Regions from separate parts of the Homo sapiens genome. Here regions 1, 2, 3 and 4 are each linked to region 5. The links come from fine-mapping of genetic effects on gene expression. A gene starts in region 5. Each other region holds a variant in brackets. All regions are shown on one strand. Distances are between the middles of the regions. Region 1 overlaps PLEKHA6 (pleckstrin homology domain containing A6). Region 2 overlaps PLEKHA6 (pleckstrin homology domain containing A6). Region 3 overlaps PLEKHA6 (pleckstrin homology domain containing A6). Region 4 overlaps PLEKHA6 (pleckstrin homology domain containing A6). Region 5 holds the start of PLEKHA6 (pleckstrin homology domain containing A6).

Evidence for each region. PIP is the estimated chance that this variant, and not a neighbour inherited with it, causes the effect. A credible set is the group of variants that fine-mapping cannot tell apart.
Region 1: its variant is the best candidate, but not a certain one, in a credible set for the expression of PLEKHA6 in cerebral cortex (GTEx, PIP 0.78).
Region 2: its variant is the best candidate, but not a certain one, in a credible set for the expression of PLEKHA6 in whole blood (TOPMed, PIP 0.74).
Region 3: its variant is the best candidate, but not a certain one, in a credible set for the expression of PLEKHA6 in thyroid (GTEx, PIP 0.57).
Region 4: its variant is the best candidate, but not a certain one, in a credible set for the expression of PLEKHA6 in skeletal muscle (GTEx, PIP 0.62).

What each region holds. Positions count from the first base shown.
Region 1 is chr1:204,259,512-204,265,531 of GRCh38, forward strand. PLEKHA6 (pleckstrin homology domain containing A6) reads right to left here. Exons shown (of 23, transcript NM_014935.5): 6 at 5,431-5,531; 7 at 1,795-1,937; 8 at 1-229. Among named protein-coding and RNA genes, the nearest start is that of GOLT1A, 49 kb to the left of the region's middle. The variant C/T (reference allele first, on the strand shown) is at 2,525.
Region 2 is chr1:204,322,422-204,328,441 of GRCh38, forward strand. The region is part of intron 1 of PLEKHA6 (pleckstrin homology domain containing A6); the gene reads right to left. Among named protein-coding and RNA genes, the nearest start is that of PLEKHA6, 34 kb to the right of the region's middle. The variant A/T (reference allele first, on the strand shown) is at 2,509.
Region 3 is chr1:204,278,783-204,284,802 of GRCh38, forward strand. All of the region lies in intron 1 of PLEKHA6 (pleckstrin homology domain containing A6), which reads right to left. Among named protein-coding and RNA genes, the nearest start is that of GOLT1A, 68 kb to the left of the region's middle. RefSeq lists a silencer at 3,933-4,136 and enhancers at 4,721-5,222, 5,223-5,722. The variant T/G (reference allele first, on the strand shown) is at 3,082.
Region 4 is chr1:204,304,306-204,310,325 of GRCh38, forward strand. The region is part of intron 1 of PLEKHA6 (pleckstrin homology domain containing A6); the gene reads right to left. Among named protein-coding and RNA genes, the nearest start is that of PLEKHA6, 53 kb to the right of the region's middle. RefSeq lists an enhancer at 1-242. The variant T/C (reference allele first, on the strand shown) is at 2,739.
Region 5 is chr1:204,356,647-204,362,666 of GRCh38, forward strand. PLEKHA6 (pleckstrin homology domain containing A6) reads right to left here and starts at 3,283. Exons shown (of 23, transcript NM_014935.5): 1 at 3,048-3,283. RefSeq lists enhancers at 566-1,493, 1,494-2,420, 2,536-3,171.

The DNA of each region.
Region 1 (6,020 bases), 97 kb before region 5:
GCTGCCCGGCTCTGAGGCTGGCTCCGGTCCAGCTGGGAGGCCATTGGCTTTCACCGGAGGCTCTTTCTTGACTTCTGGCCTCTCAGGCCTTCTCTCTGCCTTCTCACAGCCTCGGCCATCACCCTCCCCTCGAGTCTTGGCCTCTGGCTCAGGCTTAGGGAGGCTGTTGTGGGGTGGCTGCTGGTGGTGCTTGCTGGGTGGGACGTTCTCCGAGTCTGGCTTCTCATGGCTGCAGGATGCCAAGGGAGATGCTGTCAGTGACTCTAGCCCAGCATGGAGTGGGGCAGGGGGTGCCAGACTGGGAAGAAGAGGAGTGGGGAAGGATGGGCAGGGAGGTGGCTGGAACCAGGATTCTATGAACTCCAGTTCTGCTTCCTAAGTCCCACCCCTTCACCTTCTCGCTCCAGCCTGGGAAATTATTATACAACCTAATCCGCCCCTGCCCACACCTGCTGTGTTAACTCTGCCCCCCACGTCTTCTCTGCAGGTCATTCTCCACCCCACTCCCCTCTGTCAGTCTGCTTTGAGCCCAGCCTTCAAGCTATGGCATGACTAACCTCACCTAGTCTTGGTCCTCTCTGCGATCTATCCCTGACCCAGCTCCCCAAACTGGGTTTGCACTCACATCAGTAACTGTCCTTGATACTCCAGTGACAAAGGCTTGTCACGGGGCAGCTGTCTTTCTTATAGAAAGTTATTTAACTGCCAAGAGTCTTGGGCTCCTCATCAGCAGAATGGGCATAATAATAGCTCCCCTCCTAGGACTGCTGTGAGATAAAACATGGCGGGCACCAGGAGCAGAAGTTTCTGCTTTCAAACTCACAAGCACATAAACACGCTAGTTCCCTTCTCCAAAACACATTTCTTCCAGGACTGACTTTCCATGAGAATACAGGCCCCACAAGGGTAGGAACATGGCAGACTTTCTTCCCCTGTGTTCCTAGCACCCACTACAGTGCCTTGCACATTTATATTTACAGTAAGTATTTGTGAAATGAATGAATGAACTCTTGGAATTATGCCCCTTGGTTGAAGCGAAGATGGAAATTTGTGACAATTTTCCCCCTACAGCTTCCCAAACTCCACATATTCAAGTGGGATTGTTGAAACATTGCTTGGTAAACATTTCTAAGATATGTGGACTTGGAGCCTACACTGTGAAACCCCCTTTTCCTGGATCCCCCTTAGCACCTAACTCAAGACTCCACATCCAGTTAAGGGAGAGACAGACGCTGAGACCGTGGGTGACGGCGGGCGATGGGAGCGGCCATATGTTAAGAGTTTACTGCATGTTGAGTGTTTTACACGCACTCTGTGTAGGCCTCACAACAACCCTATGAGGTAGAGTTGTATTTGCTGGTTTTTGAGCAGAGGAACCTCGGGTTCAGAGAGGGTGAGTCCCTTGCACTGAGATCACGCTACAGCCAAGTGGACAAGGTGTGATTCAAACCTGAGTTTATTTTCCTCCAAAGGCGGTGTGCTTAACACACACAGCCGAGAAAAACCAGCAAATGACCCTGACCTCTGGCTCCTGGCCAGACCCCAATGGAACCTGGCTTTTCTCTTGGCCTTCCCGAGCTCAGAGAGAAGAGGAGGAGCTGGCTAGGGGAAGAGAGACTTCAGGCTCTGAAATCACTCAGCCAGGCCTCCCGCCTGGATGCAAGGAGACGGCTCACACATTCTCCAGGGCTTCAAGTAGGCACACTGGGATTAGCAATGGCCCAGAGCTGGGTGTGTCTTCCATTCCCCTCTTTATTCTTCCTGCACCCCCACACTCAATTCCCTGGCACTCACCTGTGCCGCACAGCTTGGGGCACTGACTTCTGGGCTGGAGGGATCTGTACTCGAGCAGCCTCCCCCATGGCCTGGATCCAGGCCTCTTGCTCCTCGGGGCTCTCGGCACTGAAGAAGTAGGTGCGGACCCCGGCATGCTCAGCCTGTGGGGAGAGGCAGCGTGTGGAGCTGGCCTCGGCCTCATCCACCCAGCACACAGTCACCTGTTGGGAGAAGACACCAACGCCCACAGAATGGGCAGTCAGTTGGGCCATTCCCTGCACCTGGGGCTCTTCCCCATGCGGAGCTCAGGAGCAAGGTGAAGAGGGCAGCTTGCAGCTACCCCGAGGGTTCCAGCTGGTACCCACGTATCCACCTTGGCTGGCTCTCTGGGCACCATTAGGCAGCCCAATAACCAGGTCAGCCTACTTGCCCCACCTGGGGTAATTAAAGCAGGAGGGACAATGATCACACCCATTCTCCCGGCAAATTCCATGTTTGATTTCAAAGGCAATGACCCCATGTCTGGGAGAGAGGACCCCCTGAGCACATGCCAATCTTAGCCCCAGCTTCACTGCTGAGAAGCTAGCACTGTCTCTTCCACGTGGAGAGACAGCCAAGCCCCTCTCTGCAGGCATGCAAAGCAGGCACTGGCATACAGATGGGGCACACTACCTAGTTGGTGGCTGCGAGCAGGTACTGCGGGCGGGAACCCAGAAGAGAGCTCCTGTCCAGAGGAGGGGTCCTCACG[C/T]GGTCAGAAGGAGGAGAAGCAGAGAACAGGTCAACCAAACACCAAAGGGAGAGACAGAAGACGACGTGGCAGGAAACGGTGAGGAGCACAGGGAAGGGGGAATATTCAGATTGTCCTCTTCTACTCAGCATTCCCCCGGGAATGGCAGCACCCAACAATGCCCAGTTCTGCCTACCAAGGGGTGGGGAGTGGAGAGCTTGCACCAGGGAAATTCAGGCTGGTGGTGGAGAGTGAGTCAGGGAATCGCAGTGCTAAGCCTGGCTCTGCTCCTGACCAGCTCTGCAACTGCAGACAAGTTGTGGTTTTGCTCTGGTCTTCACTGATGCATCTATTTCACGGGAAAAGAGTCTGCCTGGTGAAATTCAAAGTTCTTAGGCCACAAGGAAAAGAGGCCACAGGACTAAATGCTTTCTGGGACCTCAGCACACTTCCCAGTGAGATCCTCAGTAGCCTAGCTTAGCCCACTCAACAGGGGACATCTAGCAGTGATTCAGAGTCTCGGATGTGAGCCTCACTCCAGCCTCTGACCCCTTGAGCCCTAAATCCTGGGTCTCTGGGGGTTGAGATAGCTTCAGGGCTCCCCTGAACAGCAACGTCAAGCCCACACCCTCTAAATGCTCAAAAGATTCCTCAGCTGCAGCTGGTCCCACCTCGCCTCCACCTGTCCCCAGCCCTCATTTTCTTTCTGACAGGAGCCATTACCCAGCAAGAGGCAGGGGTGGGCCTCCTTCCTCTGGTCCCCACCCTCCAGCAGAGGGCTTAGCATGTAGGTGTGGGAGAGGGCAGGGGAGGTGTTGACAAAAAGCCAGTGAAGACTAAGAAGCTGAGACTTGCGACGGATAGGGGATAGAGAGACCAGGGGCCCAAGCAAGCCTTCTAGGTGGAGAACACAGGGTTATTGTAGAGCGGAGACACACAGGCAGGGCTCGTGGGTGTGTCCTGGGGTGGGTGGGAGCGGGCAGCAAATGAATTCATCAATTCAATGAGCATCCAGGGAGCAGCCTGTGTGTGCAGAACTCGCTGGGGGCACCAGTCACAAGGAAGGCAAAGACAGGCTCTTGCACTTGAAGAGCTGACAGTCACGCTGGGGGACAAAACATGCCGCGGGAAACAAGGAGAGAGCAGAGGCACAGGGACAAGTGCTGTGACAGGAGAAGGCAGAGGGCCTGGGAAAAGACAGGGCCATTGATGGGGAGTGGGTAGGGGCGCTGGCCTGGAACTATGAAAGGGGGCCAGAGAATTGAGGGAGCTGTCCCAGCGGGGCAAAGCCCCCGGAGCCTCTGTGGGGCCAGAGTTAGGGAGAGGTTAAGGCATTCAGCGGTAGCCTGGGCAGGAACAGTTCCTGGCTCATTCTTAGCCATCCAAGAGTTTCGCTCGGTGGCCACAACAGGACAAGCCTCCCATCTGTCTCAGCTCCCCTCCCTTCCCTGGGGAAGGGCCATGGAATAGCCACAATCAGAACCCTTTGTGGGCCACCGAGCACAGCCCTCAGAGTCAGGTTTAAAAGAGGCAGCGCAGTGTGGGGGAAGGAGGCGAGGGGCTGGTGGGCAGAGAGGTGATATCTGGGATCTGTGGTGGAGGGAGTGTGTCAGTCACTCGGGGATGTTTATCTCACGCCTGCTGCTGGCAGAGCTCCGAGCTGGAACGTGTCTGTGTCTCTGCACAGGTCTGGTGGGGAGGGTGAGACAGGCTGTTTGATTGTGTGTGTGGGTGTGTGTGTGTGTGTCTGTGTATAACAGGACTACTTGTTGTTGGTTAAACAGCCTGTTCCTATTTCCCCAGCTAGAACTGGCTCCCTGGAGTCAGAGCTTTATTAATTGTTCATTCTCTTCACACCTCTGGCATACAAGACCCCGGGAGGCTGGAAACTAATTATGTGCCAAATAAGTCCTTCCTTGCTCCCTGTAGCGGGCCCTGTGCATGCTGCCCAGCTCTCTTCTGTGGCCAGGTGACTGGAGCCTGAAGGACAGGAAGGGACAGAGTCCCTTCTTCTAAGGCTCTAGAAGCTCAAGGAGTGACCTACAGATCCAGTCATCTAATATCATAGCTTTGAAGGGTCTTGGACAGCAATTGTCAATTAGGGGAGAGAGGGCTTTGTACCAAGAAAATGTGTGGTTGGTATTATAATTTTATATTTGGAAAATGAAAAGGGACCTATGATTTTTACATCATAAAATACGAAAGGGCATGAGATTTTTATAGTTTCTGATGGGTCGTGACTTTTTAAACGTGGAAAAACACTGGCCTAGGATGAGCCAGCTGCAGGCACATCTTTAACGGGTGGCTCCCCAGGGGTTCAAGGCAGTGATATTGAGCAGGCAGGAAAGGCCCATGTTCCTGTGCACTTGTTCTCTCAAATGGTTTCTTCGTAAGATTTGCAGCTCTTGTGGAATGAAACTCAACTTCTAATATTCGTTAAAGATTGAAATTTGAGTAACTTTGACTTGGGGGTAGGTCCAGTTTCCTGAAACCACGGTGGGGAGGAAGCCTTTCCAGAAAAGGTCTCAGAACCCACCAGCCACAGCTCCTGCCTCTGCCCAGAGGGATTTCCCAGGGGCAGGAACTGGGCAAAAAGTCCAAGGACTAAGAACATAACTATTCCTGCCCCAGTAACAATTGTGGTGCTGCTGAAACACATCTCTACTGGCCCACTCTTAGGAGAATTGCCCACCCAACCCCCAAGAGAGGAGGAAGGTCCCAGCATAGCCTTGCTCTAGCCTTACAAGAGACTGTGCTGAGTCTAGGGGCCATTACTACTCCTCCTCCCCCAACCCACCACCACTGCTATGGCCACCACCACCTGGGATTCCTTAGAGCGATGGCTCTTGGCCCTTCTCCATTCCCATAGGCTCTAGAAGAGCAGGCCTTCCTTCCCCACCTGCCCTGGGAAGGGAAGGCCAACTGACCTTAAACGTGTGTTTCCGGCTGATGTTGTCTGAGGGCTGCACTGCGGCTACCCGGAAGCTCAGGAGGGGGATGCTGCCCAGGATACTCTCTTCCTTCTCATCTGTCAGGGAGAGAGGCACAAGAAGGGTGTGTGTGTGTGTGTGCAAGCGTGTGCGTGCGCCAGGGGTGGGGAGGAGTGTGTTGTCCCTCCCTGATAAATATCAATACATATTTGTTGTTCACCTCCTGTTTGTCAGGCACTCAGGGCCACCACACATGCTCCGAGAGGACACTCCCTGGAGTTAGGGAGTGTGGTGGCCCTGGAGATGCTGTTCCAGACACTGGGACTACAGAGGTGAGTAAGAGAGAAGTAGTGCCTACCCTAAAGGAATTTGCATTCTAGTGCACAAATAAACAAAGAAATAACAGCTGATATTTTGGAAGCGTTCAGGCACTGTTCTAAGTGAAATGCCTTCATGGATTTAATCCTCCCAACAAACCTATGAGGAGGTACTATTATTACCCTCATTTTATAGGTAAGGAAGCTGAGACACAAAGAGGTTAGATGATTTATCCAAGGTTACTTAGGCAACAAGTGGTAAAATTGGTC
Region 2 (6,020 bases), 34 kb before region 5:
GAAGTTCTCAGGACTCTTAATGAGCCACACCAGCTCCCTGGCGTGACTTGGGAAGCCAGTGGGGTCGCACAGCAGGCTGCTGCCATCCAGCTTTTGCCACCTTCAAAGTGCCATTAGTGGACAATAGAAACTGGCTGCTTAGCCGGTGGTCTCAGGCAGTCCCAGGCCCCCATAGCTTCAACCGCTGTCACTATTATCCAGAGCTATCAGCCGCTGGGATTCTTTCCTTAATGGGCAGGCAGCAGATAATGGGCCTCCTGTGGTCTACTCTGCACCAGCCATAATCACACTCCTCACACATGCTCCTCCACATTCCCCCAACCAAGTGTTTACTCTCTCAAAACCCAATTGTAGCTACTGCCCATGTAAACTCCTATCCTACTCCTTTTATTCTGGGGACCACTCTTCCCACCCCAACCAAGCTAACTGGCCCTACGCATTTTGCAAATTCCCTTCTTGTCCCATGGCGTATCATTCTGTGGATGCAAGGTCTTCCCAACCTAAATCTAAGTCATCTCTTCCAGGAAGCCCTCCCTGATAGACCATGCCCAAACCTGACCTTCCCTTTGCTTTGCATTTCCTTGGAACTTAATGCCTTCCCCGCTTTTACATTGGTTAGAGCCATTTATGTCACATTTATTCATTTGACAAACATTTGCTAAGGGTCTACAGCTATGTGGCAGGCATTAACTGTGTATCTACTATGTGCCACAGCACACTGTGCTAGGCCCTGACACTCAGTGCCCTCCGGGAGCTTGCACTCATGTTAATTATCTTCAGAGCCTTGCCTGGGGGAGGCCCCCCTCTGCACTTAGATGGGGCACTCTCCCAAGGACTGTCTTCTCTTTGCTCCATCCTAGCACCTGACATTTAATAGGTCTTTTGCATCGTTATCTCATCTTATCTCCGCAGCACCCCTCAAGGTAGGATGGAGACACTGAGGCTCAGAAAAGATGAAGCAACCTGTCCAATAGATCCCAGCTGGTTACCAGCTGAATCATCAATAGAAATTCAGGTCCTCTGACTCCCAAGGCAAGTGGCCTTTGCCCCACAACATGCAGACTAGGATCACTGAGAGCTAGATGGGACCAAAGTGATGACTTCTCAACTGCTGTCACAGCCAAATGGACATTTCGGAAGAAAGAAAGCTAATGTGAAATTAGAGGGCATTATAAACTGCTTGTGTAACTGGAAAGCTTCAACAAGGTTGTACTTGTATTCCTGGTGCATAATAGGTGCTCAGTATGTGTTTGTCAAATGAATAAACAGCTTACTAGAGAGGTAAATGGCAGAGGGTGTAAGCTACCTAGTATTATAATAATAGCTATCTATTGAGTGCATACTTGTGTGAGGCATAATTCTAAATGCAACTCATTTGATCTTCACAACAGCCTTTTGAGATGGTTGTTGTTATGACCTCTGTTTTAAGATGAGGAACCTGAGACAAAATCAGGTTAAATATCCTGCTTGAGGATGGAGTGGCAGGACTTGGAAAGGACCTGGGCAGACTGACTCCAGAGCTGTGCTCTTCAAGTTAGCCCAGTACAGTTCATCCATGAGATCACTCAATTCTAATTACAAGCATACTGAGTGAGTGTTCTGATGAGTGCTGAGTGAGACCTGAAGTCACACTTCTGCCCTGGGCCCCAAGGTTCTGCTTGAGTCTGCATGAGTCACTCCTAGCTATGATGAAGTGCAGTAAAAGTCCAGCCAGTAGGGATGTGTTTCAGCTGCACGAGGACTTCAGGAGCCCTCTTTGGGGTCCACATCCCAGAATCTGACTTTGATTGCTCTGACTTTGATTGCCAGGCATCCCTGGTAAGAGTCAGGGCTATGGATCGTGAAGGGATTTTGAAGATGGAAGGAAATTTTTAGTATCTCAAAGGCTGAAGTAGAGGATAGAATAGGGTTTGTCACTGGGCACAAAGACATGCTGAAAAGATTTATAAATAGGATAAAGAAAGGGGCCTCAATGAATAAGCCCTTTATGGGATAGGATACGAAGGGCAGGGCTGGGCAATAGGAAACTCCAGCTCTGGCTACTTTGCAGCCCCCATTAGAGAGGCAGCTCGTGATGAGACAGAAATGTCTCACCATCAATAAGACAAGGAAAGGAACCAAATGAAGAGAACTTAGAAACAGTTTTCTCTGAGGTTGAGTTTCTCTGACAAAGTCTTATCTGAGAGGGATACAATTCAGAAGAAATGAGTGAAAGTGGAGAGACTATTCCAGAAGTCACAAAAGCTGAAGGCTTTATGTCTAAAGGTGCTGAATTGGAAGTCGATTAGGATCCTGGTGTTTTTATCTGACCTGAGGCCAATAGCTTACTAAACCTTCCATAGATATCAGTTTCTCCATTCATTAAAAGGGTATTGGGTCACCTGTTTGTGTCTTTGTCCTTTGGCTTAGGGACTGTGTTGGATAAAGGAGACTGGAGATCACATGATGCCTGAGTTACTTAGAAGAGAGGAGATGCAGGAATACAGAATTTTATTTATTTATTTATTT[A/T]TTTTTGAGATGGGGTCTCACTTTGTTGCCCAGGCTGGAGTGCAGTGGCGTGATCTCAGCTCACTGCAAGCTCCACCTCCCAGGTTCACGCCATTCTCCTGCCTCAGCCTCCCAGGAATACAGAATTTGATCAGAGCTTTCAGCAAGGGAGAGGCAGGAGCCACCTCCACACTGTACTTCAGTTACCCCAATTGCATTTAGAGAGATGCAACTATTTTGATTGTCTTAGAGCTCCTGAGAGATAGGAAAGTCTAGTGTCAGGCACCTTGGGTAGGCAACGTTACTTCCCAGTTATCTACAAGTTCAGCTCTCTGGGGTCAGCCCATAGAAAACGAATGCCAGGAAGAAATGTTTCCTGCAATTAAAGCAATAAAGAGAAATGCAAACTGGGTTTAGAGGGCTGCCAGGGGGAGAATCCTTAGGGACATGGTGGTCAACTGTCCCAGTTTGCCCAGGACTTTCAGTGCTCAAACCGGGACAGTCTCAGGCACACTGAGAAAAATTGGTTGTCCTACCAAAGAACTCACGTAAATAAATATCTGGTTTGACAAAGAACCAATGGGCACCACATGAGATCTTCATGCTCAGAAATATTGAGAGCTCAGGTCCCAGGACTAGGAGCCCGAATGCCCAGCTGCCTGCTTGGTGAGCCCTCAGCACACACGTTACTGTGGGCAAGTACCTGCCTCGCTGGGCTTTGGTTCCTCTATAAGATCTGGATGGGTTTTCCTTCCTATCTGGAAGACAAAATCCTATTAGAAACTTCTAAAGGTGCTCAGGACCCTGAGCCCTGAGAAAGTTCCTTATTGGTGGCTTCTTAGAGTAGCCTGTGAACAAACCCAGGAGGCCTTGGCGCAAGACTCTACTCTGCCTGTCCCTAAGGTCACTTAGTCCTGCAGAGATCTCAGGGCCCAGGCGAACAAGGGGTGGAAGGGCAGCATGGGGAGAAGTAGTAGCTGCCATTTCCAGGCTGCCAAAGCCAAGCACCGCTGGGCTGCCATTAACATATAGACTGGGCTGAACACAAAAGGGGCAGAGTCCCTCTGCCCACAGCAAGCCCCATTCCTCACCCTGCCCAGCCGTCTCCCTAATGCATCCAGCACAGGGAGCCATGCTTCCCCTGGCTTGAGACCACTTAATTTTCTCCTAAGCTGCTTTGTGAGGCAGGCTCTGAGCACTCCACGTGTCCAGTCCTGCTGTGGCCAACTTTCTCCATGGCTGAGGGCAGCTCCAGTTCCATGCCCCCTTCTGCCAGCTGAAACAGAGCCCGGCTCCAACAGTGCCCTTCAGTTTGTGAAGACCAGAGGGCACAAGTAGACACTCAGCTCCTCTCTCCCTTAGACCCAACCAGCCAGGAGAGTGAAGCTTCTCCCTCCTGCCTGTGCCAACACACGGTCACGTCTTAGCTCATCAAATGTTCTATCAGTGCCCACTATGTGCAAAGCACTGGCAAAGAAACAGAGACAATCGAGACCCATATTCAGAACCCAAAAAGGGCCATGAGAGCACAGATAGACAGAGGCTTCCCAGCTCTCATTCTAACAAGACTTTGCATGGCTGCCCCAGTCCATGCCACCTCCCAAACCCAAGTGAGCACCACAGAGGCATGGAGACAAAAGAGAAAGAAGAGAACCAAAAGCCTGGTTAATTAATTCACAAAGCAGTGCTCCAGGTGATAGATCATTGAGCCTTACACCCTCTCACAACACATTTCTAGCAAATAATTTTTGCTGTCCAAGCCCTAAATCTGACTGCTAGGGATTAAGCTAGAGAATTAAGAGTCGGAGGATAAATGTAATCAAACCCCTTTCCTTCTCCTTGGTTGGTTGGTTCATTCATTCATTCCATATATATTTTATGAGTGCCTTCTGTGTGCCAGTATGGAGCTCAGCACTAGGACTTGACCTCACTCAGCATTCACTGCCTTTCATCATCCTTAGACTAGCTCCCTCCTTCCTATATGATCCAAATAGGGTGAGGAACTGCTCACTGCCCAAACCCTGGGGCCTCCGCACTTAGGCAGGGAGTGGTCCAGGCAGAAGCGCGCTGGGTACGGCAGCCTCTGTAGTAGGGATTTGTGGACAAAGCAGCTACTTGGGTTTCAGCCTCTCCCCAGTCTCTCTCCATCCCCTCCTCCTCCTCCTGGGATAGAAACCCTGCCACTCTCTGCTCACATGCTTGAGTCACAAGGCTGAACTCCCAGCAAAAGAAGTAGCTCAAGGATGTAACAGGCGCGAGCCCAGTGAAACAGAAATACAGTATTTCATTTTGTTCACTTTGCACCATTCTTCCTCGTTTAATGCCCAAGAAAGCAGTACCAGGGCTTCCTGCTTGTTTGTCCTTCCTACCTCTCCCACCCACCTGGCGCTGAGGCCTCACTCCTGATTTATCCCCAGCTCCATTCCTTTCTGTCTCCCTCTCAAGGCCCACAGAGGGTGTCTTGTGTCTCTAGTGCCCCACATGTGGAGAGGTACAGGAAGTAGACAGCGATAAGGAACTAGCACAGGGCAAGTGAGCCTTGATGCCGACGGGCCCCTTCTGGGAGCCCCTTCTTGGCCTGCAGTCTCTGGCCCGCTGAGGCCCAGGAGAGCGCTGAGAGCCCCGTCGTTGATTGGCACCTTGCAAGCAGACTTCCTCATCTGTCCATGCACGTTGTGGTGTCCAATGGTCTAACTGCAGATTTCCATCTCTGATCTGCATGGGCAGATGGGCGAGCGCTGTGCCAGGCCCCAGGGGACCACAAGCTCCTGGGGAGGAGGCACAGCCACCTGGCTCTCTAGACCAAGGACTCAGGGGGCCTGTCTCAAGGGCAAGAGACAGCCCAGGCCTCCAAAAGGGAAAAATACAAGAGCAAGTATAAGCCAAACCCCAATCCTCTCTCCTTTCTTCTCACTTGCTCCCATTCCTAAGGAAAGGACAGGGCAGGTATCAGAGAGCTGGGATGGCTGGCTTTCCTTTCCCATTTGAGGCATATCCTCTGACTCACTGTGTTTCTGAAAGCCAGTTCCCTGACTTCTCTGGATAAAACCTCATTATTCTCAAAATTAGAGCTGGAGCCCTGGCTGCTTTCTGATGACCCTGGCTGGGATAAAAAGGAAAGAAGCTGCTTTTATTTATTTTATTTATTTATTTATTTATTTATTTATTTATTTATTTATTTATTTATTTTTGAGACAGAGTTTCACTCTTCTTGCCCAGGCTGGAGTGCAGAGGCGTGATCTCGGCTCACCACAACCTCTGCCTCCTGGGTTCAAGGGATTCTCCTACCTCAGCCTCCTGAGTTGCTGGGATTACAGGCATGCACCCCCACGCCCAGCTAATTTTGTATTTTTAGTAGAGACGGGGTTTCTCTATGTTGGCCAGGCTGGTCTCAAACTCCCGACCTCAGGTGATCCTCCCGCCTCGGCCACCCAAAGTGCTGGGACTACAGGCGTGAGCCATTGCACCCAACCCACAGTCAATTTTCTTTCTTTTTTTTTTTTTTTAGACAGAGTTTCGCTCTTGTTGCCCAC
Region 3 (6,020 bases), 78 kb before region 5:
TCTTGGGCCCTCTCCTGATGCCGGCTTGAGGTTCCTGCCCATACATAACAGGTGCTCGATAAATATTTGTTGAATGAATGAATAATAGAAACTCTCCAGCCCTGACTTAATTTTTAACCACCTGCATTTGGAGTTTGACATTCTATCACCGAGGGCTTCCCTATCTTAGCTCTCTCTTAAAATTAATTACTTCCTCTCCATGAGAGAAGCTTTGCTTCTGCCCCCTCGCCCCCTCACTCAGCTTCCCTGCCTAGCTCCCCCTTGAATACATAGCTTGGCTTTGATCCACCTTCAGTAGGACGGGAAGAAAATTAAGCTCATCTGCACAGAAGGAGGAGGGGGTAGGGGCGCTTTGGGAAAATGAGCTTTCTTCCTCTAGAAGGCAAAAATATCCCCTTTCACTTCAAGCTGAGCTCAGGGGCCTCCCACAGCCTTTGCTTAAGCTGCAAGTTAAATTACTTCTCCTATGCCCTGTAAAGATAGCACAAGGGAGTAGGAACGAAGGAAGGCTCAGGGGCTTCCCCTGCTCATCAAGAGCTCTGAACTCCTAGGAATTAAGTCTGCACACAGAATGTCTAGCAGCAGTTCTTTCCCTTTGCCAATAAACTGCAGAGTATGGCAAATTTTCATTTTAGTTAGACATCAAGAAGAACTTACAAGAGGCAGAACATTAAAAAGGGAAACAAGGACAGGTAATCCGTTTTCTCCTTCTTCTCTCCTTCCTTTTGGGATGTCAAAAGGCTTCCATTTGTCAAGGACAAATGATTATGAATCCATGAATACATACCCAAATGGACCTTTCAAATTCCACCCAAGAGAAGGGAAAATCTCAAGTGGTAAAGGAGATTGTGCGGTGGAGGTAGAAACAGCCCTAAACTCCAGAGCAGTCCAGTAGGTGGTCACTTATCCACAATGAGGGTGGCCCTGATGGCAGTGCCATCAGTGGAAACAAACATGGCAGGACCAAACATTCAGTCCAAGATCCAACCTGAGTTAGGAATATGACTTTATTTCTTGGGCCCTTAGTTTTCTCATGTGTAAATGAGGTACCTTCTAACTACATGAAATAATAGTGCTCACTTCACCAGCACAGACACTAATTCTATGAAATAATAGCTGTAAACTTGCAAGATATAGACCATTTTTTGCAGAAGAGATAATGGCTATGATCATTCTACTTAAAAACAAATTAAGATATATGCCAGATGAAGGAGCGAAAAAATGAAAAATACTTAGTCCCAGGCTTAAGAAGATCGTGTATGGGGCACAGGCTGGGAGTGCCAGGGGCAGGCACTCTGGAAGTCTCAAGAGCGATAAATTACAAAGAAAAGAAGCAGATCCTCTCTATTTTTCCAGGCCTTTGTCTCTGCACCTATTTAAAGCTTTCCTGTAGTTCAAGAGACATCCTCAACCCCTACAGTACCTCACATAGAGATAACTCTGCATTGCTTCATCTCCAAACATCCCCCTGGAGAGTCAGCCTCCACGTGCAGTATACCTGGCACTACACTGTCAAGAGTGGCAAAATTAATCCAAGTTTCACGATCTTTTGCAGGCATGTATGTTTACACATGCACACACACTCCCAGGCTGGATGCCCAGAACCCCACTGTGATCAATATTGAACGACTGGAGAAATACTCCACTCCTTCCACCCACTGGGCCTCTCTTGATTATCTGCTGTACACCAAGCTGCTTCATTTCCATAGCTCCTGAGAATCTGCTGACAAAGAATTAGCCCTGGCCCAGCTTCCCCATCCTGAGGACGCCTTGGCTTCCAGCATTACAGCTCATTAGGTGGAGAGAGGTTTGCATGCAAGGCAAGTGGAAAGGGGGTCCCATCCCTTCCACTTCCTTCTTTCTCCCAGCTAGCAAATTCCAAGCCGAGACTGTCCATGCTCCAGAGAGGATTTCTGCTGCCACAGAGGAGGGGAAGGTGGGGAGAAGGTTGGCTCCTGCTCTGTGCCTCCCCATCTGGATCTCATCATTATTTTCAAGGAGGCTTATCTGCTTCAGCATCCTGTCCCAATTAAAAACCAACTCAGTTTATGTTTCCAGCCATCTTCATGCACCTGATTCCTGAAGCTCCCCCTGCCATTTCCAGGAGAAAATACACTTTCCTAGCCACTTCTCATCAGAGGCCCTCTGTTTTCCTACCTATTGCTGCCACATAAAGAAGAGGTCAAAGAGGGTCAGGCCCTGGCAGCACTTCTAGGTATTTGCAGGTGGGAAGGAACCCCTCCAAACAACACTGCCTTAGCCAGGCATGGTAGCACATGTCTGTAGTCCCAGCTACTCAGAGGCAGAGGCAGGAGGATCACTTGAGCCCAGGAGGTCGAGACTGCAGTGAACTATGATCACACCACTGCACCCCAACCTGAGGCACAAGACCCTCGTCACTAAAAAACAACAGAGCAAGGCCCCCATCTCTAAAAAAAACCAAAAACAAACAAACAAAAAAGGCCGGGGGCGGTGGCTCACACCTGTCACCCCAGCACTTTGGGAGGCAGAGGCGGGCAGATCACGAGGTCAGGAGATCAAGACCATCCTGGCTAACACAGTGAAACCCTGTCTCTACTAAAAATACAAAAAATTAGCCGGGCCTGGTGGCGGGCACCTGTAGTCCCAGCTACTCAGGAGGCTGAGGCAGGAGAATGGCGTGAACCCAGGAGGTGGAGCTTGCAGTGAGCCGAGATTGCGCCACTGCACTCCAGCCTGGGCAACAGACAGAGATTCCGTCTCAAAAAAACAAAAAAAACAGAGTAAGACCCCTGTCTCTAAAAAACAACAGAGCAAGACCCTCCTGTCTCTAAAAACAACAACCCCTACTGTCTCTCTTCCATGTGCTCCTTGAAGATCAAAATACCAGTTCTCTGGGTGCTGGGAACCAGCTGCCAGTGGCTGTCACCCAGCCTTGTATTTGCTTTCACCTTTCTTCTCTGCCCTTGCTCATCCCCCCTTTGATGCCACAGTTATTTCCAAACTGTCAAGAAGATGGTACCTCCCTGCCCCAAGCCAGTTTATTGAAATGTTCTAAGCTACTCGGCTGCATGTCTAGGAGACAAGACTCATGCTGCTCCC[T/G]TTCCTGCTTCACTCTGCCCAGCCACACCGCACCCCCAGCCCCATCCCAAAACCTGTTATGGGCAGTTATGGAAGGCTGGGGGCCTTCTACGTGAGCTCAGCTCCCACCACAGGCAGAAGATAGAAGAGATGGCTCCGTGGACAAGGGAGAGAAATCACAAATCAGGGGGCCAGGTCCAGGTTTCTTCCCTTCCAGCTCAGGTGCTGTCCTTCCCCCATTTTCTCACTGTAGTGTCTCCCAGCCCCTGCTCTGGGCCTGGGTGGTCCCTTATTCCTATGAGAGGAGATAGGAAGGCCTAAGATGGCAGACTGAGGGCAGGAGGACAAGGTGTACTTCAGTCAGGGTAACGGGTTCAAGCTCATGTGTGTGCACGCACGTGTGTGTGCATGAGAGAAAACATGGATACTATACAGGGGAACTTCATCCTGACCTCCCACCCTAGCTTGGTTCATCTTTAAACTGGTTGTTTTACTTTAGGGAATTCCATCTGTCTGCTGAAAAATGAAGACAACCAGAGTAGATAGCATAACTCTGCCAGTGATTCAAATACTGAAGCTCTTCCATGTTGGTGGGTGAAAAGCTGCTCCCCCAAGTCCCTCGAGTGTCCCTGCCCCATCTCTGGGCCAGGGTCTGAGACCTCCTCACATCTCCATGACCCAGAGACAAAAGAGTTAATGCCTGGCACCACAGGGCCCTCCAAGACTCCAGGCCAGCATCCTTTCTGGTTGATGAATTATTGAATATCATTCCCGGGTACAGCCAGTCCTTAACTGTCTCAACACTGAAGTGTCTTCCAATTGTGGGGAACTGCGATTCTACCACCCAGAAGCTGCCATGGGCAGGCTGGGAGACACTTTCTCCTTCACCCTGACCCAAATTGGAGAACTGGGGCAATCCAGCTCCCTGGAGCTCCTCCTTGTGCTGTGTGCTCTTGTTCCCTTCTAAAGAGAGGGGGAATTCAAAGGAGAACCAGCTGCCTACAGCTCTGGGTTTTCCTCCTCTCAGCCTTTCCTCAGTAGCTAAGCCAGACAGAAGCAGAGAAAAAAGGCCCCAGCCCCCTCGCCTCCAAGTTGCCTTCTCCTGACAGCCAGCAATGTGGAACGGATCCCAAGGGGTAACAGGGCAGGGCAATAATTAATTATGCCCCCCCACCGCCCCGCCGCCTTCCAGCTCTGAGTTGAATCTCAAACCCCTGCCCTTCAGTGGCTGAGGCAGCCCAGCTGTCCGCCGCCGGGTCTATGGAAGGTCATTGAAACCATGTCTCTGCATCCCTAACTCAGCAGATCTGCTTCTGGTGTCCTACGGAGAGCAGCGACCCCACCCTGCCCCACCCAACGAAAGGAATTTTACAAAGTGGGTGTTTGGAGAGTTATGAAGCTGGCTGATCTCTCTCCTTCCCCATCCTCAAAAGCTACCAGTGCCTTCTTGGTTCCCAATCCAGCAATTTGAGAATCAAGCTGTCTGGTATCTTAGTTTTCTCATTTTAACAGTAAAACAATGGTATTGAGTGATGCCTTGTTGAGCAGACAACACAAATCTCCCACTGGACCAGAGAGCAGAGGAAGAAAGGTTATGATGCTCTGAAGGCATGTGGAATGAAGAGAAAAATAAAACGCATGCAATCTCTGGTCCTTACACTGGGAGGGAGGCAAGGAAGGCCCATTTTAGAATCAGGGAAGCTGAGGTGCATTGTCCCAGCTATAGTGACAGGAGAGGTCAGAAAAATTTGAGTCTTGGGCTCCCTTCTTTCTGTTCCTGCGATGCACCCAATCTGAGCTCCCTGCCCCTAGGAAAGCAGGAGAGAGCTTCATGGTTCAGGGGGAGATGCCAGCTTTTCAAGGTCTGCTCCAAGAACACAGTAATGAAAGCCACAAACTCTTTCACTGGTAATATCTGTGGGCTACAGGTCTGGGGACTGTGTGTGATGTGGGCTGGGGGCTACCCACAAACTTTAGTCTGACAACAGCTGCCTGGATGTAGGGGCATGGAAGGGCAGCCACACAAACACTGTCCACAGCCTGGCCTTTATTGCTGTGCCCCTGCCCAGCACCTCACACACAGGGGAACTGAATAACTGTTTGAGTTTGATGGAGCAGCTGTAGGGCAGGCCAGCAGGCTCACCACTGCCTGGAGGAGGGGGCACGTGCTGTTCCAGTTGGGATGCTGAATAGCGGCTGAAGGAGACAGGAGCTCAGCCTCAAATCCCTCTCGCCGGGATCAGTGTGCACAGTGCATCTGCTTCATGCCCCCTCCTGTCCCTCCCCTCCCTACTGGCCAGCCAGACTCTGATAAGAGTCTACAAAGCAGAAGCTTTGCCCTGGGAAGAGGAAAGCAGTAAACCAGCCAGAGCTGGAGAGCAGGAGCCTCCTGGCTGGAGGGTAGCACAGCAAGGGTTGAGGGGCAACAGCAGGCTCTAATGTAGTGCTGCTCCTCACCTGCCCAGGGAGACCCATTCTGCCTCCGGCCCCCAAGGAGGGCTCAGCTGATGTTCTCTCTCAGACTGGGAGTAATAGGGTAAGCTGGAGCCAGGTGGATTGTGGGAAATTATGAACACCTCCTTTTGCCAGGAGCAAGGAATCTGGAACTTCCCCTGTACTTGGGGAGCTTGCCAAGGACTCTGAGGGCAAAGCGATATCCCTGCACTGCTGCCTGCTGGTGGGGGATCCAAAGGGAGCCTAGGAACAAGGGCCACCCAAGGAACCAGCCAGAAAATGACTGTGCCTAGGAGAGCACTTGCTGCAGACTGAGACGATCCTTTGTGAGCTCCCCTGACGCCCCCGAGAGGAAGAGGGAGATCTGGAAAGGGACTGGAGAGTTGTGAAAAAAGCTGGCACATGATGGCAAGGAATGGACAGCGTGTGGATTGTCCTTAAGGAAAAGGGTAAGGCCGGTGGTCTCAGAGTCAGGAGTCTTGGTAACTGACCACTACTGAGTCACT
Region 4 (6,020 bases), 52 kb before region 5:
CCTGACCCTGGAGGTAGAAACCTCTCACAAAGTAAGAATGGAGAAAGACTCAATATGTTTATCAGTTTATCACATTCTAAAGACCCGCAGGGAAAGATGGTAGTGACAAGATCAGAATTCAAGTTTTCAGAAATCTGCCCCAAAAGTGGCCTTATCAGGGACAACCAATATAAGATTGTCAACTTTTAATTTTGCTAAATAAGGATATTTTAAAAGCCTGATTACCATCTACTCTCACCATCAGCTCTGAAAAAGGATAAGCTAGTAAATATTTCAGCACATCTCCTGCCCCTAAAAGATGTCTTCTAATACATTTTGCTTTCTGAAAAAAATTGGTAAATTTTCCCTATTTTTCTTATTTTACCTCAGACTGGTGAAAACTCTGTCACAGACCAAAACTTGGGAATCACTGGGCCAGAAGACAGCTCCATGTCCCTTTTAGCTTGAGCCTAAAAATTAAGAGAAAGATCCTACGCTTTTGGGATTCAGACCTTCTAGAAAACCTGAGTAGGGCAGGTATGGAAGGGAGGGGGAAATTAATACACATACTATTCTTTACTTATATTAAAGGCACTCTGTCAATTACAAGGCACTGAACAAACATTGGTTGTTATTTTATAAAGCAGGTGTCCAGTGAGCATCTACCACCCTACTGAAACCTCTTAAATTTCTGTGAGCCCCTGAATTTTACCATATCCTCGCCTGTTCAAATAATTCAGGGACAATAGAGAAGAAGGCAATCTACTCCAAGTCAAGAATTACCTGAGGAAAAAAAGTATGCCTCTGGTGCGTGGTAGAGAGCATCAAATTGGCAACGTAACAGAGACATAGACCCAGTGATGCCATTTCAATTGCACGATGAGGGGGCCCAGAGAGGACTGGTTCCATACCAGGGAGCAGTTTTCCACTCTGCCTTCCCTATCACTGCTTCTTTCTCATTACTCTGATGCAGAAAGTATGGGGGATGAACAGGTAAAGGAAAGTGCGTGCATTGCTGGGCAGTGGGGTAGAGGGAGGTGCATGCAGTACTGCGGCACGCTGGATTAGGAGTTGGATTCTAATCCATCCCTCCTGCTGACTAACCATAGCAGCATCTTTTGGCTCCAGTTTCCTCATCTATATTGTAGGAATATTTTTCCCATCTTCCCTACAGGATTGCAGGTAAACTGAGAGACCCTTGAAGGCAGATCCAGTTCTTTTCCATCTCTCTATACTCAAAATCTAGCACACTGCTTAGGGAAGAAGAGGGATCAGTAAACACCTGCTAAATTGAGCTAGAATGGGAGTGTGGGTATGAAAGCACACTTGGTCTGAGCTGCAAAGCACTGTACAATTGAACAAAAGGAAGAAATTATGACACTCTTTTGGCCAAAATTATGCACAGCAGCATCTACCAACTACATAAAGATGCTATGAATTCTATTTGGAAGTAGGTGGTGACATAAATAAAAAAATGTTTAATGCCCATAGTTTCAAAAATAACCAGACTGTACAACCTATTAATTGTATTGCCTAATAAATGGCTGTGTGATTGCCTTCTAAATTCCATTGTACTATATGATTTCTTAGGCTTAAAATGTATTTTTGTTGCACTTTGCCCATCCCGCATCACCTCTCATACATTTCTCCCACTATATTCAGAAGTCAGTAGGCAAACGGTGGTTTTCTCACCTATTCTGGATTATATCGACATTGAGAGTTGAGATCACTTGCCTGGCTGCAGCTTTGGAATGTGTCAGAGTTTAGGACTCCCCAATCCCTCTTTTTGTTCCTTTCCATCCACCCCATATTCTTTCTCTAGCTTTCTCCACCACATTCCTCCTCCAATGTATATCTCACCACCCCAAATCTGCTTTTCAAAAACCACCTCCAGCCTCTGGCTCTGTCCCATTGAGTCTGGGCCACCCACCATTCCTGCGAGATCCTGCCTCACAGCATGTGCTGCCCACAGGACCAGTGACTGCTCAGATGGCAGCCAGGCCAGGCTGCCCACCCACCAGCCCCTGTACAAGGCAGTTCTCTGATCTCTGCTCCTTGCCACCAAGAAACACCACACAAACCCTAGGAAGACGGGGCCACATTCAGCCAGCCTTACCCACCATCCACCAATCACCTGTCTCGCCCAAATTTCTGCTTTCAGGCAAAATGCCAATTCCTCCTCCCCCTCTTCCAAGGCTTTGGCCTCCATCCTGCCCAATTCTGAGGCACTGAGAAGAAAGTGCTCCTGCCACTTGCCCCTCATAGCTTTGATCCCTTGGGTTGGTTCAAGCTAATTTCACATGGAGACCATGCTGGAATGCATAAGGATCTCACCTTCCCAACAGACAGCTTTACAGGTAGATTTATAAGAAATGTTCCAGGACATAAAGATAACAACAGTAGATAGATACCGGGGACTCCAAAATGGGGGATAAACCTATTGGGTACTATATTCACTATTTGGGTGACTGGTTCAACAGAAGCCCAAACCTCAGCATTATGCAATATATCCACGTAATGAACCTGTACATGTACACCATCCCCCACCATCTAAAATTAAAAAAACAAGTGTTCTAAGCACCTACAAAATCCAGGGCTTACCCTAGGGGCATCAGTCCTCTGGATACACATGGGTTGTACTTATGTCTCTAAATTCCCTCTGCAGCCCCCTACCCCCAAGGGAGAAAATAGTCACCTTCTAGAAATTAGATATTTTCTTTAACTTTTTAATGAGAGACCCCGAGGAAGATGAACATTTA[T/C]GCAATATTCTTATTTGCTAGAAGAGAAAGAAGGGATAAATGAAAAGAAGAAGAGGTAAAAGAAAGAGGAAGAACAGGTAAAAGATTTGCTTCCCAACTATTAACAGAAGTACCTGCACCACACACACACTCACACACATTCACTCTCACACACTCACACTCATTCATATCTGCCTTACTGTGAAATACTGCTCTTTGCCCAACATGTGAGTTTTTCTCCCGGGTCCTCTCCACTGAAAGTTTGGCTGGCCCCAGATCTTCCTAGCGGAGATCCCCAGGACCCTAGATTTTACCTTCCATGCCAGATGTCAGGACCCAGCTGGGAGACGCAGACTGCCGACTGAGAAGGAGTGAAGCAATACTTCTGATCGGAGAAAGCTGCCGAGGGTGGCGGATGCACTGCCCATGAGAAGGAAGGAGACAGGGAGAGAGCCTGGGATTCCAGAATTCCCCCAGCCTTCCAGGAAGACTCTGGTGTCAGCTCTCTCCTTGCTCCAGCGCTAACTGAAAACCTAAGGAACATCTCCCAATAAAGCTGGCTCTGAAATCTGAAACTGCAGGTTGGCCAAGTCCTATATAAACACACTCACACCCCCAGTTCCTCGGGTCTGATGGCTTACCCGCCCTCGCGTTCCCCTCACTCCCTACCCCGCCTGCTCATTGGAAACATCAGACAGCCCTCTAGCTGCAGCAACTCCTGAAACCCTAAGCTGAGCTAGCCCAGCGGAGCTGAGCCCAGAGGTGCAGGCACTGGGAGAGAGCCCTGCCAGGTGCTCTCCACTGTCTCTCCCAGCCCCAACCCCTCCAGCAGTTCAAGTCCAGGTGCTTAAGTGGCACTCAGGATCGAGGCAATAAGGGCAACAGGCAAGTCTGCAGCTTAAGAGCAGAGATTTTGAGACTATTCCTCCATATTAGGGAATATTCTCCTAAGGATCCGATTCTAGATAACTGGGTCTGACATATATAAATGGCTAAATTTGTCTTCCTCACCTCTCCCAATTTTCTGCATATCCTTCTTATGGAGCTCCCCTTTCTTTTGTGCTTCCACCCATAATAGAATTAGGCCAGGTGAGACTAGGAAGGGACTGTAGCAATTGTAACAAATGCCTCATTTTGCAGATAAGAGAGCTGAGGCCAGGATGATGACATGGCTTGGCAAAGCCAGGGAGTGACTCCCAGCCCGATTCGGCATCTTGGATGGTAGAAGGAAAATAAGAGGCTTACAAGTCAGATGGGCTGGGCAGTGGCTCATGCCTATAATCTCAACACTTTAGGAGGATTGCTTGAGGCCAGGGGTTCGAGGCTGCAGTGAGCTATGATCCTATGATCATGCCATTGCACTCCCACCTGGGTGACAGAGCGAGACCCTGTCAATCAATCAATCAATCAATGTCAGTTGGAACCATGCTTTAATACAACTAGATACTCACTTGGACCACTGATTGCAAGAAAAAAAAAATCACTTAACCTCTCTGAGCTTCAGTTTCCTTATCTGTAAAATGAGGCTAAGGATCCCATCTGAGTCACAGTAAATAAGGTAACATGTATACAGGGGCACATGGTAGGCACTCAGTAAATGCCCATTGCTCTTCCCACTACCTCCAGTCGCCAGCTGACTCAAGAAGGTAATTCTTTTTCTTTTTCTTTTTTTTTTTTTTTTTTTTTGAGACAGAGTCTGGCTGTCGCCCAGGCTGGAGTGCAGTGGCACAATCTTGGCTCACTGCAAGCTCCGCCTCCCGGGTTCACGCCATTCTCCTCCCTCAGCCTCCCGAGTAGCTGGGACTACAGGCACCCACCATCACGCCCGGCTAATTTTTTTGTATTTTTAGTAGAGACGGGGTTTCACTGTGTTAGCCAGGATGGTCTCGATCTCCTGACCTCATGATCCGCCCACCTTGGCCTCCCAAAGTGCTGGGATTACAGGCGTGAGCCACCACGCCCGGCCTCAAGAAGGTAATTCTAAATTGCCTGTAGTATTTACTGTTCCTCCAGTGGCTGGTTTCATGTTTCTCATTCATTGTCTTTCTGTCACTCTATTAACATCCATAGTTTACTTTGTACAGTGCTCAGCATGTAGTGCTTCATTTCTGTTAAGGGAAATATTTGACGTGCAGGCTGAGGTCATAGACAGATTCACACTGAAGACTCCCTGCAGGTCTCCCCCGCATCTCAACCTCCAGGCTCCAAGCTTCAGTCCCATGAGCCCAACCACCTACTGAGCATTTTCCTGAGGGTAACCAGACTGAACCTTAAACTCAGCATGCTACAATCAAATTAAGATTGACCACCCACTGACTAATATATCATTGTACAATCACACGCCGCATAAGGTCGTTCTGGTCAACGATGGACCACATATACAAAAGTGTTCCCATAGGATTATAACACTGCATTTTTCCTGTACTTTTTCTATATTTAGGTACACACATACCACTGTGTTATAGCTGCCTACAGTATTCGGTACAGTAGCATGCGGTACAGGTTTAAGCAATAGGCTACACCATAAAGCCTACGTGTGTAGTAGGCTATACCACCTGGGCTTGTGTACGTACACTGTCATGTTCGCATGACAACAAACTTGCCTAAAAATGCACTTCTCAGAATGTAGCCCCAAAATTAAGTAATGCATGACCATATTGAGAAGGAACTGTACAAGATATGGTAAATGAAGATAGTATCAATTTAGTATGATGCTTCTTGGACTAAGAAATAATTTATGTTAACTACCAATATTATATTTGCCTAGAGCAGGAGTCAGCAAACTTTTTATGTAAAGGGTTAGATATATATTTTTAGCTTTGTAGGCCATACAGTCCCTGTTACACTCAATGCTACCATCATAGTGCAAAAGCAGCCACTCATAAGTAAACAAATGAGCAGAAACAAAAAAGCATAGATGAATGAGTGTGGCTATGTTTCAATAAAACTCTACTTGTGGACACTAAAATTTGAATTTCATGTGTCACAAAACATCATTCTCCTTTTGATTTTTTTTTCAGCACCAAATATAAACCCCATTCTTAGCTTAAGGGTCACGCAAAATTAGGTAGTGGGCTGGATGTGGCCCATGGGTCACAGTTGGCCGACCCCTAGCTTACAGCCTCTCAGGAAGGATGTAGCAGACACTGGTAACAGTGATCCTCTCCAAGGAGGGGACTGGGCATAGATGAGAGATAGATCGAGAGAGAGACTTTCACTGAATACTTTTCTATATTGTTTGACTACTATGCATGCAAGTGAAAAAACAAAAATCAATTATGAATGGGCTCCCCATCTAAGTTC
Region 5 (6,020 bases):
GTGACAATAATACACATCTGGGCCAAAATTTTAATGATATATATGTATTGTGATAATCTAGACATACACTCATGCATGAATTCATAAAAGTACAAGTATACCAAAATTAAAATTATATATCAAACCTATGGGTAATTCTTAACTTTGCTTTAGGTTTTTCTACATTTTTAAATGACAATGTATTACTTTTACACTCACAGAATAGTAATTCTTTTAATGTACACCCTTCATCACATTAATTCTATGCCTTGGAATTTATCCTAAGTCACCCAAAACACAGAAAGAGCCTTATGAACAAAAATGTTCCTCTTGTGCTATCTGTAAAAGGAAAATAAGGTAACAACCTAAATGTCCAATATAGAAATGATCATGTAAAATATATTACATCCACACACGGACTATTATATACTATTTTAATCAAAAGAAAACTATTTTTATGACCACGTAAAAGAGAGAGGTGACTTGTTCTGCACAGCTTCAAAGAATCAGAACCAGAGGGTGGAACTTAGAAGTCGGCAGATTTTGATTCAACATAGAAGAATGTTCCAGCCACAGAGGAAGCTGCCTTGTGAGGTAATGAGCTCCCTGTCACTGAAATTATCCAAGTGAGGCTGCTGCTTCTGTCAGGGAGGCTGAGGAAGGCTCATCTGGATGTGGAGGGAGTCTGGACTAGATAGTCTCTGAGGGGCGTCTGAAGGTTGTAGGTGCTGAGCAGGAGCCCCCTGAACAGACAGATGGTCAAGGGAAGGCTTCCACTCAGCCTACCCTCAACTTCTTTTCCTTCTGCTCCCAGTTACTCTAAATGTCTCCCAAAATATAGTCTTTTTTTCCTCTCTGAATGTGCTTTAAGTGTTTGGAGACTGGCCTGCTCAAGTCCCCTCATTAAGCCCTGGCTTCCTGAGCCCGTTCGCCTCACCCCAGAGCTCAGGGGAGTGCGAATCCTGCAGCTCTTTTGTGAGGCACAGCTCCAACCTTCCTCTGGGGGGCCCCATGGGTGCGCCAAGACCAGTGCCAATGACCTCATCAAATTCACAACAGGCAGTGAGGAAGACGATGAGGAAATTGGCTCGGAGAACGGAACCGCAGCCTGTTCAGCACCAGTTGACACCACGCTCCCATCTGCTGTTGCGGCTTCTTCACTCTGGCCTAGGCCAGTCCCCTGGGCCAAGAGAGCTCGCTCTATGAGCCCGAGGCTGCAGGCTGGGTCTGGGCGAGGTGGGGGCTCTGATGTCAGCCCGGGAGCCAAGGTGGCTGCCTCCCTCACTGACTGAGGGATCAGTAATTATTTCATTTACAAGCAGAAATAATCCAACTCAATAATCCAGGCAGACACATTCAAAGTAATTATCTGTGTAAGGCGTCCTGCACCATCACCTTCCTAGGAAGGAGGAAAAGAAGCCTAGCCCAGCAAAAAAAAAGCAGGTGGGGACCCCCATTGTCTGCAGCCTGTGTGCAGCAGCCTGCCAGGATTAATTACACACCAGTGCTAACACATTTATCACCTCGCCGCTGATTGGAAAACCAATGACTTTTAATAATTCATATCTGTGGCTCGGCACTCTGTGCCCTTGTGCAAAGACACAGAAACTCGCTTGTTTCCATAAGGAAAGCCCAGTGGCAGTGCCAGGAGGGGTGCCTTCAGCCCCTCCTGCCACCCCAACCTGGAGACAGGCCAGAGCCTAGCCGCTCCCACCTCCCCTCCACCAGCAGGGTCTGCTCATGTCCTGCTGAAGCTAAAATGCAGCTGCTCGGGGGTGAAAGCTGGCGACTGAACCGTCCTAGCCACAGGAGCCCTCCTCAGTTTCATACTCTTCCAGGGTGGCCTGGAAAACAGGATTTGGGAGATTTGTAGGGCAAGTGCCCGCAGTGCCCCCGCACCTGCCCAGACAGTGGGCTCAGGCAGATACCTGCCAGCCAGGACCCTGCCCCACCATGCAGGAGACCCTCAGCAGAGTGCACCACTCAAGTGATCAGATTGAGGGTAAAGGGTCTACAGGGCTTTGGGAAGAGCCTCCAATCCCTGAAGGCTGCAACCTCCTCTGACACCAGCTCTGAGCTCCAGCCTCCTCCCCACCACCTTCCACCCTCCTGCAGCTCTCCCTCCCCACCCCTGTGCCCCGGGGATGGCTCTCCCTCTATCCCGGTTCTCCATCTCTGCTCTCCCAGGCTCCACAGCCCCCTTCCCTGCCCTGGCTGGCCTGTTGTCTCAAAGAGCATTTCCCAGGAGCCTCTTCTCCCTTCTTCTCCCTTCTCCCCCACCCCCGCCACTTTCCTGTCTCGCCCCGCTTCCCTCCCCTTCCACTGTAGCCCTCCTTACCCTTCTCTGGCCAGTCCCCCAACTGTCCTCCTTTCCTCAGACTCCTCACACAATACCTCGAGGCTCTTAGCTGGCTGCAGCCTGGTCCCATCATTATAAATGCCATCCCCTCATTCCCTGCCCTCCTCTACCACATACCAGGCTCCAGCTCCTTCAAGAGCTCCCCACTAAATCTGAGACCCCCAGAGCTCAGATGCGTCCTAGGAATTGGAATCCAAGAGCCTCTGTCACCCTTCGACCCAACCTCTGACTCATAAGAATGATACACACCCTGACCCCTCCCCACGCTGAGGAAGGTGAGTCCCTGGGGCTGACCTGAGCCTGACCCTGGACCCCCTCCCTCTCTCCTTCCTGCTGGCAAGATTAAAGGGAGGGTGGGCTGGCCTCTCTGTGCTAGCTTGCGTGGGGGACCCCTGCTGGACCCTAGGAAGCTGCCAGCCCCAACGCTGCCTTCATCCAGGAGATGCAATTCAAATGTAATCAATTTAAACAGCATCAGCCCTGACAGGGGACTCTGGAGGTGGGGGTGGGGGCACAGGGAGGGCTATAATTAGCATTCTCAGCATCCATGATCCCCAAGTAAGGCTGCCAAGGATGAGAGATGGGGAAGCCAGTGCTCCGCAGTGCAAGCAGCCCAGGCTCACGCGGCAGACAGGCAGCTGCCAGCCCTGACCAGAGCCCAGCCTTCCTCCTCCCACCTCATCTATGTGATGCATGAAAACAGACTCACCGGCTTCTGAGGTGTGATCCCCGCGCTGGAAAGCTCTAACTCTGCGAGCCCCAAGGCACCCCTCCCCCCAGCTCAGGCCAGCTGGGGTCCTCCTCCCCCGCCCCTGGGGCCCCCTTCTGCAGAGCGGGGCTCCGGATCTAATCTGATCTAATCAGTCATCTCTCCGGCTGGCAGGTCCCTGGCGCAGGGAGAGGATGCTGTTGTGGTTACTGCAGGATCCAGCATCTTTCCCAGGCAGAGGCAGCTGGGCATGCTCCATCGGCTCCCCCGGGGATTTCAGGGCCACGTGACTCTCCCTCCCCAAGCTGTCACTTAGGATCAGGAGTAAATAGTCCCCGAAAAGGTTTAACTCCATCCACACCAGCGACAAGCTGCTAACCATCCACGCAGCCTGCCTGCCCGGGAGAGGATGGGGTGGCTCAGCACAGCCTCCTGGGCCTTCCACCACCAGGAGAAGGCTGCCCCCCAAAGGGGAGCAGGGCCACCGTCTGGGTAAGCTGCATTTTTAGAGTCCCCCACAAGAGACTGCAGGGAGCCAGAAACTGCCCAGGGTCTTAGAATCATGTGTGGGGCCTCACCCAGCCAGCCTGGTGATCACCTTTCACCTCTGTGGCTGTCTACTCCAGAGAGGGGCACGTCTCTAGGTGTCAAGAGGGCTTGGCTGGGGCCCTGGGGCCTCCCCATCCCCCGCCCCCCCCCCAATATGGTGAATTTAGAGAAATAACATTTGGAGAGGGTTGGGGGCCACTATGAGATGCCAGGATGAGTGGGGTGTGAGTGGGTTGTGGAGCCACTGCCCCCACACCAACCAGCCAGGCTCCTCCCAGGCCCTGGGAGGGAAGTCTGTGCTCCTGTTCCTTCCGTTGCACATTCCTTTACAGATAAGGGCTTCAGTTGGTAAAAATGATATAGGTACTCAGATCACACTAAGACAGACCCACTTGTATTGGAGTCGAGAGGCTTAATTTTTTAATCAAGTTGTTCTAATAATAAACAAAAAATGCAATTATCAGGTGAGTGGGGCCTTGCAGAAACCCTTTCTCTAGCTCCTGCCCAAATCGGTCTTGATAACCCTGAGCAAGGATGCTAGCCAAGCTACGGGGTACCTGGGTTCTGTATTATTCAGGATCAGAGGCAGAAGGAAGGACTTCAGACAATAGGGTCGTAGCTCTGTTTCTGCTTAGACAAAGATTGCTTTCTGCCTCAGTTTCCCTTTATCCACATCTCTCTCAGTTTTCCTCTATCCACGGATTCTCTGTGACAATGGGCAAGTGTAATAAAAACACTGATTTCATAAACAGGATCAGAAAGATGGAAAAAACCAAAAGATTCCCACCTCAACCTCCAGGCAGGCTCGCTGGTCTCAGTCCCATCTGCCCCTTAAACCTGGAAACTGGGGACTGAACCAGATGAGCTTCTGGAGTCACTTCTGAATAGAGAAATATGTCAAGAAGCAGGAGCTAGAGAAAGGGTGTCTGCAAGGCCCCACTCACCTGGTGATTGCATTTTTTGTTTATTATTAGAACAACTTGATCAAAAAATTAAGCCTCTTGACTCCAATACAAGTGGGTCTCTCTTAGTGTGATCTGAGTACATATATCATTTTTACCAACTGAAGCCCTTATCTGTAAAGGAATGTGCAACGGAAGGAACAGGAGCACAGACTTCCCTCCCAGGGCCTGGGAGGAACCTGGCTGGTTGGTGTGAAGGCTGTGGCTCCACACCCCACTCACACACACCACAGCATTGGAGGAAGACAGGGACCTAGAGAGCTACTGAAGGGACTGTCTTTCCCACCCCAGGGCAGGCCAGGCTGGAGCCAGGAATCTGGGGTTAGGGCAGCAGGCGCAGCTCAGCAGCACTCTTGGGGAGGGGGACTCTTGGTCACCTCCCACTGTTCCCCTGCCCAGCTGAGATGTCAGGCCAGCCCTGCATTGGCTATAGGAAAGCTGCTCTGCTGAAGGGGCAGACAAGTTGTGGATGAGGGCCCAGTGCCAGGCAGGACCGATCAAGCCCAACTCACCTGCCCTGGCTCTCCAGGACTTGGCAAGGCTGCCAGGTGCAGGCAGGGGGAGAGTCTGCTTTCAGTCAGCCAAGATGAGGGGCTCTTGGGGGTCTCTGACCCTGCGGAGCCAGTGGAGGAAAGGAGTGGAGGCAAGAGATTACAGCATCCCAGAGGGAGGCCGGGGAGGGGGACAGAGACCCCAGCCCAAGCCCCCACAATCCTCAGGCAGCTGGAAAAGGCAGGCGACCAACAGATGGGCCTGCTGGGCGGGTTTCCTCTCTGGCAGGCAGAGGGCAAGGGCCGCAGACGAGTCCCACGGATCCTTCGAGAAGCCTGAGCCAGACATGTGAATGTTTCTGGGGGATCTGAGTAGCTTCAGGGGCATGAGAAGCCAAAGGGAGGGTCGGTGTGGGGTGCATGCCTTTAGCTGGGGGACCAAGGCGGAAGAGATGTGGTAGCATGAAGATCTTAGAGCTACAGCAAGGACAGGTGAGGCGGATGGACCAGAGATAATAAATTCCCTTTGCCAAATCTAAGTTCTTGCTCTGCGAGCCCAGAAGAGGAGAAGCAAGCCTCACCTAAACAACTCCAATGGGGAAGGCGTGAGGTGGCGTGAGGGAGGGAGGATTCCACAGAAAGCACCTCTGCGATCCCGTCTCTCCTCTGCTCTACAATCACTGGTCCCCATTGCTCAGAGGATCAAGTCCAAGCTTCCCAGGCACCTACTCATGGTCTCCAAACACACGGGTCCTCCCCACCTTTCTGGTGCCATCCCCACTCCCTACCATACAGTCTTGGTGGCCACTAACTTGACTGGCTCACTGCCCATTCAGTGGAACTGCATCCACATGGGTCTCTCTTCCTCGCAGAACATGCCAACTAGGGGCAGCAAAGGGAGCTCCGTGGGATGAACTAGCTCACTGCAGCCTCCACCTCTACCTGGGCTTTAGCAATCCTCCCTCCTCAGC